Linked DNA regions of Homo sapiens. The protein of the gene in region 1 interacts with the protein of each later gene in a pairwise test. Each region holds a gene or a part of one and is shown on either strand. Other genes may lie near its edges. The genes, in order: TBX3 and PRR20C.

The links.
Region 2: the proteins of TBX3 (region 1) and PRR20C interact in a two-hybrid assay, tested with the Homo sapiens proteins (one large-scale study listed by BioGRID).

Annotation. Positions count from the first base shown.
Region 1 is NC_000012.12:114,681,305-114,685,846, reverse strand, and holds the start of TBX3 (T-box transcription factor TBX3), read left to right. Parts: upstream 1-1,671; 5' UTR 1,672-2,646; coding exon 2,647-3,035; intron 3,036-3,212; exon of another isoform or gene 3,213-3,555; intron 3,556-4,542.
Region 2 is NC_000013.11:57,152,568-57,156,877, forward strand, and holds the start of PRR20C (proline-rich protein 20C), read left to right. Parts: upstream 1-1,493; 5' UTR 1,494-1,707; intron 1,708-1,861; 5' UTR 1,862-1,880; coding exon 1,881-1,932; intron 1,933-2,953; coding exon 2,954-3,567; 3' UTR 3,568-4,310.

The DNA.
Region 1 (4,542 bases):
GCCCCCAGATCAGCCCTTTCTCCGTTCCCTTTCCATCGAAGAAGCTTTCATCTCAGGAAAGATAAAAGAACATTGTTTTCAAGATTTCCCTCCATCTAAGCAAGGATGGTCCAAGACATTGGCCCCCAGAATCAAGAACTGTGGGCTTAGGCGAATCCTCTGACCCCGACCGGGCGCTGCGGTAACAGAGTTGGTAATTCGGCGATTGGTAAGATCCGGTCGTTTCCCTCCCGTCCGCCTAAGAGGAGGCCCCCACCCTACCCGTACTAAAAACAGTCAACTCGCCTCTGAGGTGGGGGCGTTTCACGGTTTGTTTTACAAATTCACCCTCCCTCCCCGACTTCTGGCCAGATTAAGTCCCCGGGGTGGAGAAAGAACTGAGGCACCGAGAGATAAGTGCGATGCCTAGAGAAGATACCAGGCTGGCGCGCCTCCCCCAACCCAATCGCCCACCCCTTACCCTGTGCTGTGCACCCAGCCGGGCCTCGAGGTGAGGGCAGCGGCTTGGAGGGGACAGGCTCAGAACCCAGTCTCTCGCTGTGCTCGCTTTGTCCAGATCCTCCATTCTCTTCTCTACACCCACACCCACATCCAGGTGGAATATGGGGGCCCGCATGCAAATGAAAGACGAGATCCAAAAGGGCTGGTAAATGCATTTCATAAAAATCCCAAATCCATCTTCCCCAGGAGCTCAGGCAGGGCCAGCCGCGCAGGCTGTGTACGTGTTTGTGTGTACGTGTTTTTCGGTGTGTGTTTCAGTCCCAGTGTGTTGGCGCGTGTTCGAGTACAGATACACCGGGGGTGTTTGGGTACCCGCACATGGCTGCGGGTGGGGCGCAGTGGAGAGGAAGCCCACACATGCGTGTGCTGAGATATGGCCGCATCCTTGTGCTCCCCCAGCCCAGACGCAGGGGAGACCAGCACCGAGACACCCGAGCTCGGGAGCCCTTCAGCGGCGGCCGGGCGGAGCTTGGCTCCACGTGGGGCTGGAGAGCACGCAAGCCTGGAGTCTCGGCGCTCGCTTCTCGGCTGCCGCCGGCTTTTGTAGAACCGAGTGGCCGGATGGCAGCTCGCGGGGAGGCTCGGCCACCCGCCCGGCTCGCCCGGGGCGGGGAGAAGAAGGAGAGCTGGAGAGAGAACCGGCCGCGGCGGTCGGAGAGGCGAGCGGAGTGCAAGAGAGGCGAGCGCCCCTGCCCGGCGCCCGGGCGCGCTCTCCGCCTTCCCCGCCCGGCTCGCCTGCTCGCTGGCTCCCTCCCTCTCTCCCTCCCCCTTCCTCCTTGGCCCTGCCTCCTCCCTCGATCCCCGGCTGGATGACTGAGGCATTTCAGACGTGGGCTGAACCAGAGCGAGCGAGCGAGCTCAGGGGCTGCAGCGATCTCTCGATAAGCCACCTAGAGGCGACTCTGTGCGCGCGCGCTCCCCAGTGGCTCCCGCCCGCCCTCTGATCATGTTGACATATTCACAGGACAGGCAGTAGTACCGATGCGGCGCTGCGACGTTACAGTTTCCGACACCTTCTTTTTATAACTCAGCTCTATCCCCCAGCACTCGACCTGTGAAAACCACGCCTATGCAGCAACACAATTGGTCCGAAAGCGTCAAAGAGCCAATCAAGAGGCCTCCGGCTCCCCGCAGCCCACAGCGCAGCCCGACCTTCTAGAGCCGCCGAGCAGACGCCCGGTGAATTCTAGAGGCGGCGGAGGGTGGCGAGGAGCTCTCGCTTTCTCTCGCTCCCTCCCTCTCCGACTCCGTCTCTCTCTCTCTCTCTCTCTCTCCCCTCCCTCTCTTTCCCTCTGTTCCATTTTTTCCCCCTCTAAATCCTCCCTGCCCTGCGCGCCTGGACACAGATTTAGGAAGCGAATTCGCTCACGTTTTAGGACAAGGAAGAGAGAGAGGCACGGGAGAAGAGCCCAGCAAGATTTGGATTGAAACCGAGACACCCTCCGGAGGCTCGGAGCAGAGGAAGGAGGAGGAGGGCGGCGAACGGAAGCCAGTTTGCAATTCAAGTTTTGATAGCGCTGGTAGAAGGGGGTTTAAATCAGATTTTTTTTTTTTTAAAGGAGAGAGACTTTTTCCGCTCTCTCGCTCCCTGTTAAAGCCGGGTCTAGCACAGCTGCAGACGCCACCAGCGAGAAAGAGGGAGAGGAAGACAGATAGGGGGCGGGGGAAGAAGAAAAAGAAAGGTAAAAAGTCTTCTAGGAGAACCTTTCACATTTGCAACAAAAGACCTAGGGGCTGGAGAGAGATTCCTGGGACGCAGGGCTGGAGTGTCTATTTCGAGCTCAGCGGCAGGGCTCGGGCGCGAGTCGAGACCCTGCTCGCTCCTCTCGCTTCTGAAACCGACGTTCAGGAGCGGCTTTTTAAAAACGCAAGGCACAAGGACGGTCACCCGCGCGACTATGTTTGCTGATTTTTCGCCTTGCCCTCTTTAAAAGCGGCCTCCCATTCTCCAAAAGACACTTCCCCTCCTCCCTTTGAAGTGCATTAGTTGTGATTTCTGCCTCCTTTTCTTTTTTCTTTCTTTTTTGTTTTGCTTTTTCCCCCCTTTTGAATTATGTGCTGCTGTTAAACAACAACAAAAAAACAACAAAACACAGCAGCTGCGGACTTGTCCCCGGCTGGAGCCCAGCGCCCCGCCTGGAGTGGATGAGCCTCTCCATGAGAGATCCGGTCATTCCTGGGACAAGCATGGCCTACCATCCGTTCCTACCTCACCGGGCGCCGGACTTCGCCATGAGCGCGGTGCTGGGTCACCAGCCGCCGTTCTTCCCCGCGCTGACGCTGCCTCCCAACGGCGCGGCGGCGCTCTCGCTGCCGGGCGCCCTGGCCAAGCCGATCATGGATCAATTGGTGGGGGCGGCCGAGACCGGCATCCCGTTCTCCTCCCTGGGGCCCCAGGCGCATCTGAGGCCTTTGAAGACCATGGAGCCCGAAGAAGAGGTGGAGGACGACCCCAAGGTGCACCTGGAGGCTAAAGAACTTTGGGATCAGTTTCACAAGCGGGGCACCGAGATGGTCATTACCAAGTCGGGAAGGTAAGCAGTGGGGGCCTCCTCCCCTAAGCTGTTGGAGAGTTTTTTCCTCCCTTTATTTCTCTGCTCCCAGAACAGTCGGTTGGTCGGTTATTACGGCTTGGACGAAAAGTTAGTTCCCCTAGAAATGTATGCACAGACTTCCAGGCCCTGCCCCGGTGGCAGGAAATTTCAGCTTACCTGGGCATCTGCATGGGTCTTGCATTTGGTCTGCATCCTGGGTTCCCTCCCGAACAGACAGAATTTTTCAGTGGAGCACAGACATCCCTGCAGGGAGCAGGAAAGAAAAAAAAAAAAGGCACTCTACTGCAAGAAACTCACTCTTCAAACCCTCCTGGAACATCCTTATTTCTTTGTTGATGTTGTGTTGTCTGTTTTATTTTGTTCTCAGAGAGAAAAACTTAAAGCCCTTTCCTTTTGTGTGGGTATTGGGAGGCCTGACACCATTCCCCGGCCCTTTCTGCCCTCCAGTCTAGCCTCTGGGTCTAAAGGGGCCTGCTGCTGCCCTGGTCAGAGAGAAATCGAAGGGCATTTTGGTTTGTTTGCCCACACTACTTCACGTGTCTGTAACCCAAGGGCGAGTTCAGCAGGCAATTTTGCATAATTTAAGATTATGTTTGCAGACTTAAGGAGCCAGTGAGGAGACACACACCTTTTTTTTAATGTGTGAATATTATCAACCATATTTTACATAATGTTTAAAGGTCCTTGCCTGACCAAAACCTGCCTGGAAGAGAAGATCCTGTAATAGTCATTTAAAATCACTGATTTTTTTTTTGTAATAGCATTGAAGCCTGTAAAGGCATAAAGTTGATACAAAAATAAAATCCCCTTCATGATATCTTAAGCGTTCTGTCTCCTTCCAAGCTAAATGAGGCCAAAGTTTGGCATAAAATCCTCCTCAAACTCACAAGACATTTAGTCAGTTTTCCAGCAAAGTGCTTCCTTGCTTCCTTTTAAGTCAAGACTACAGAATGCCAACCCTTCTGTGAAATTAACAGCAATGTGGTGGCACAGTCTTGCGGTTTTGGACTGGCCTAAGAAGTGGGGGAATGTGTTAGCAGCTCCACGGGCAGATCGGTTATCAGGCCCAGGAGTGCACCGAAGTCTGCAAAATTCGTTCTGGGAACTCACTGAAGTCCAGTTTCACTTCGCCCACAGCGGGATTGCTATTCTGCAGCAGGGAGGGGTGCAACTTGACGTTCATTTCCTTGATAAGTTTAACATTTTCTCATCAATGGGTGGTGGAAAATTCTAGTCTTAACTGACCGCGCTTTACAAAAATCTTACCCCAACCTGTTTAGATCTAGATACCCACAGAAAAAGACATGGGCAAGAATTTGCTCTCAGGAGGGCAATCTGTAAAGTCAAGCAAGGACAAAAAAAATATTGAAGAAATTGTTAGACAATGTAGAGAATTGCAGTGCCACAATGCATTTGTTTTGAACCTTGGGACGTCTAAATATGGCGAAACTGAGAATATTTAATACGTTAGTTGTGGAAGAAAACG
Region 2 (4,310 bases), on another chromosome or scaffold:
GACAGAAAAGGTATGTGAGGTGAAAGCATAGCAAAACCTCACTTCAACAGGAAATACAACCCAAAAAAATAATTGGCCCGGCATGGTGGCTTGCGCCTGGGGTCCCAGCGACTCGGGAGGTTGAGCGGGACGGACGGCTTGAGCTCAGGCCTTCCAAACAAGCCTGGGCACATAGCGAAACCTCGTCTCTCCAAAAAAATCCGAAAATTATCCCGATGTGGTGGCGCTCACCTGTAGTCCAGCTACTCCGGAGGCCGAGACAGGAGAATCACTTGAACTGATTCTCCTATCTCAGCCCGCCCCGCCCCCCCCCCCCCCCCCCCCAAGTAGCCGCAGCGAGCCGAGATGGCACCGCTGCACTCCAGCCTGGGCTACAGAGCGAGAACCCGTCTCTGTAAAAGACACAAGGATGCAAACCAACCAAATAACCCACTGTGGGATCCCCTCCAGCGTCCTGCTGTGTTTCCCGCTGTCTTCCTCCACCCGTGAGTGCACCCACAGCAATAAAAGCCAGCGGTGTGGGTCTCACACGCATCTCCAGCCCCGTCGCCATCGCGCTGAGCTCGACTCTTTTTACAAAAGGCCACTTGACATCCTCACTTGGCAGTTCAAAAGCCCCTTCAACCAGATGTGCGCAAGCCAAGCTCCGCAACTTCCCGTTCAGAGCAGGTTCTCGGTCCACCTCTGCCTGAATGAACCGGCGGGCTACCAAGGCCGCAGTCTCTTCCTCAAGGGCTGTCCACACTGGGTCTCGCTTTCTCTTGGAAATTTCTCTCCCACCAGGGAACTTTCTCCTCCTCTACCTCCCTGAGTCTCAGTCTAACAGCACCCTGCGCCCAACCCCGAGGGCTGCAATAGCCTTCTTGCCTCTCCTGACTTATTCTGCGGACCCTGGGTTGGCGCTCCTTCACAGCCAGGCTGGTCGTTTCTGAAATGTTAACCCGCTGCCGGACACCGTTCCACGGTTTTCCGCTGCCTTGGAACAAGACCAGCTCCTGCGCGGACCCTGCCTCCACCTCGCACCACCTCCGGGCCTGGACTTGGCCTCCCGTCCATTCCCAGAATGTGCCGGGCTCCCTTCCAGTCCGGGCCTCAGCACACTCTCTTCACTCCCCTTCCTCCCTCCCTGCCTCTCCCAACCCGGTTCAGGATGACTAATTTCAAACGTTATGTTCCAGATTTCAGCCCAGATATCCCCGCTTTGGATGCTTTCCTTGACCATGCTCAGATCTAAGCTAATCGCATCTTCCTGTCAGCCGCTTTCAGGGCACCACACCTCATTGTGCTGACACTCAGAGGTCATTATGCAATTTTTTTTCCTCGATGATTAGATTAATCAATCAACCACGGACGTCTAGAAATGGCGGCATCTCAGAAGGGCCCCCATTTGACTGGCAGGGGACTGGCCCAATGCGCCTCGCAAGCCCAGCCAGGCCCGCCCCAGCCGGCCCCCCTCTGACGACGCCTGTCCCTTACGCGACTGCCTTGCTGCCATATAAGAGGGACGGCGCTCGGCCTCCAGCAGTCGGCTTTCTGCTGGGCTCGGAGCCAGAACCTGCTGCGTGCTCCCTCCAGACTCCCTGGCTGCGGGTGGACTACCTCAGAGCTACAGCGGTGAACCTGTGGACACCTCCGACTCCTCGGGCCTCTCTTCGTCGAAGAGTCTCCTAATTTTCAGATCTCCGGAGCCAGCTGTGGGAAGATCAGGTGTGTGTCTGGGGGTCCCGGAGGCGTGGACGGATCTCGGGTGGGTGCAGTTGGGGACAGAATCCTCATTCCCCTAGAAAGGCCACGGCCATCCCCCTGCCTTGTCACCTCTGTCTTCCTAAATCCGTTCTTGCTCTCTTGTTTTTCTCCCCAGCCCCTCCCGCCGATTGCTCATGGAGGAACCAAGGCCTTCGAAGCGACTTCGCTCCATGGCCCCTAATCAAGGTACATCAAACGCCTGCCACTCCTCTCTTTTTAATTTCGTCTGTTCCCCAATTCTTCCCCAATGGTTGACACTCAAACTCAATCAAGCATTCTCTGTTTCACCTTCTCCTAGCCTGCCTCAACCTGGGCTGCTTGTTGGAAGTCAGCTCCCGGGTTCCACATCATCTGGGAAATTCCTTTCCCTCTTCCGAACCGTAATCCCATTTCCCAAATCTGAGATTTGCTGTTGTTGTCGCTGTTTCCTTCTGTTTAGTTTTGTATTACTGTTTCTCCGTAGCAGAGCGAGTCCTCACGCTACGTCTTGATCTATGATAAACCGGTACTTCCACCTTGTTCTTTCCCGGAGGAGTTGGAATTTTCCGGCTGTTGCCACGTTGTTCTCCAAAACTTTTCCCTTCATACGCTGAGTGTCCTAAATCTTTTAATCTTGTCTAGTTTGACAGATGCATAACAATAAAGCATCCACTGAAAGGAAATTCTTTAACATCTTGCTTGTCTGAAACATCTTCATTCTCCCCTCCCAGATTCTTCAGCGAAACTTCGGTTGGACAGGAAATTTTAGGTGGGAAATTCATTTCCCTTGAAATTTCGAAGACATTTTCTGTTATGTTCTAGACTGAACTGCTGCTTTTGAGATGTCTGACTTTTGAGACATGTGGAATCCTAGCCCTTTCCATGTGACTTTTCCTTTCTCTGTCTCCCGCTCTCTAGAATCTGTTAGAATCTTCTCTTTTTCCTCAGCACTCTGAAATTTTCTGGTGAAATGTCTCAGCCACAGCATACCTCTAATTCTCTTATATTTCATCCTTCTTTCCATCATTTTAGGTTTTTGCTTTGTTCTGTGGGAGACCTTCTCAACTTCATTCTCCAACTTCCGTGGAGAGTTTTGTTTCTTCTCTCACAATTTTAACTTCAGAAATCCCTCTTTTCTCTGAGTATTTATTTGTAAAAGTATCCTATAACTGCTTGACGGGTGAAGTTCCTTCTGTCTCTCTCTGCTCACGCTCCGCTTCTCTTTTAGCCTCAGGTGGGCCTCCTCCAGAGCCAGGCTGCTGTGTTGCGGACCCTGAAGGCTCCGTGGAAGCAGATGGGCCCGCACAGCCAGCCCAACCCGCAAAACCCATCGCTTACGTGAAACCCTTCAGACGGCAGCCCCCAGCTCGCCCAGAGTCACCCCCTCCTGCAGAGAGAGGCCGGCGCCGGGGAGGAAGCCGGCGGCCAGGGCGAGGCCGTGGCAGAAGGGCTGGGCCCCGCGGGGACGCTGGCCAGAGACAGGGGGCAGAAGGCTTGATGGCACCGGACGTGCACATCCAACTGGACCACCATGGAGAGCCAGGCCACCAGGGGGAACCGGAAATCACGGAGACCGCAGCCTTCTCCCTTTCTGAAACAGGTCCTCCGCCTGGAACTGTGCAGGAAGGCCCTGGCCCCGACGTGGCGCAACCTGAGCTGGGGTTTCAGGAGCCGCCCGCTGCTCCTGGGCCTCAGGCTGTTGACTGGCAACCCGTCTTGACCCTCTATCCCTGCATCGGGTTTAGGGCTCTGGGTGACTCAGCGGTTTTACAAGTCATTCAAACCCCCCAGGGCACCTACGTGCAAGGGGTCCCAGTGTTCCTCACCGACATTGCGTATTGACCACTATCTGCCACCCACGTTGTTCCCAGCCTCCCTTCCTTCCACCTGGACGTTCCCCCCAGCCCCACTTCTGCTCCACTCCTCCCCCGACTGGACCTGAAGCCTGAGCTTCCCCTGAACTTGGAGTACGCAACTTACAACATGCAAGCTGCCAAACACCCTTTCTGTACAAGGCGATTGGAATGGAACTGTCATGTACAGTGAAAGTACACGTCACGTTTTTCAGCCAAGAAGAAGCCAACCCAGACAACCTGGAAGAAGTGGGATGCAACAAGGATCACTAAGCATGGAAATTAGGAAACTGTATTCTTAAGTCCAGAGAAGTACGATTCTGGAAAAAGGATTGATGACCTAGAATTAAAATTCCAGAAGACACTCATATAGACATGTGGGACATGCGAAAACTCAGAAGGAGCTAGAAGTTACTAAAGTGCTTCTCTAGTGCCTGGAGACGATAGACTGGCTGAATATAAGAGCAATAAAAATCTAGACTGACACATTTTTAAGTCTCAACGTGGGTACCCTTTGGGAACCACTAAATGAATTGGAATAGAAGGTAAAATTTCAAACAGATTGAGGAAAAAGGGGATCAAAGGACATGTGACGAATCAGACAAAAGGTGTTGGGGTGGGGGGGGGGGCGGTTAACGGAAGCAAGGAGAGTGCATGACTCACTGGAACCGCTAAACCAGGAATCAGTAATTTGACGGCAGTGTCCTTGGCTTCCTCCTGGCTTTAATGGGA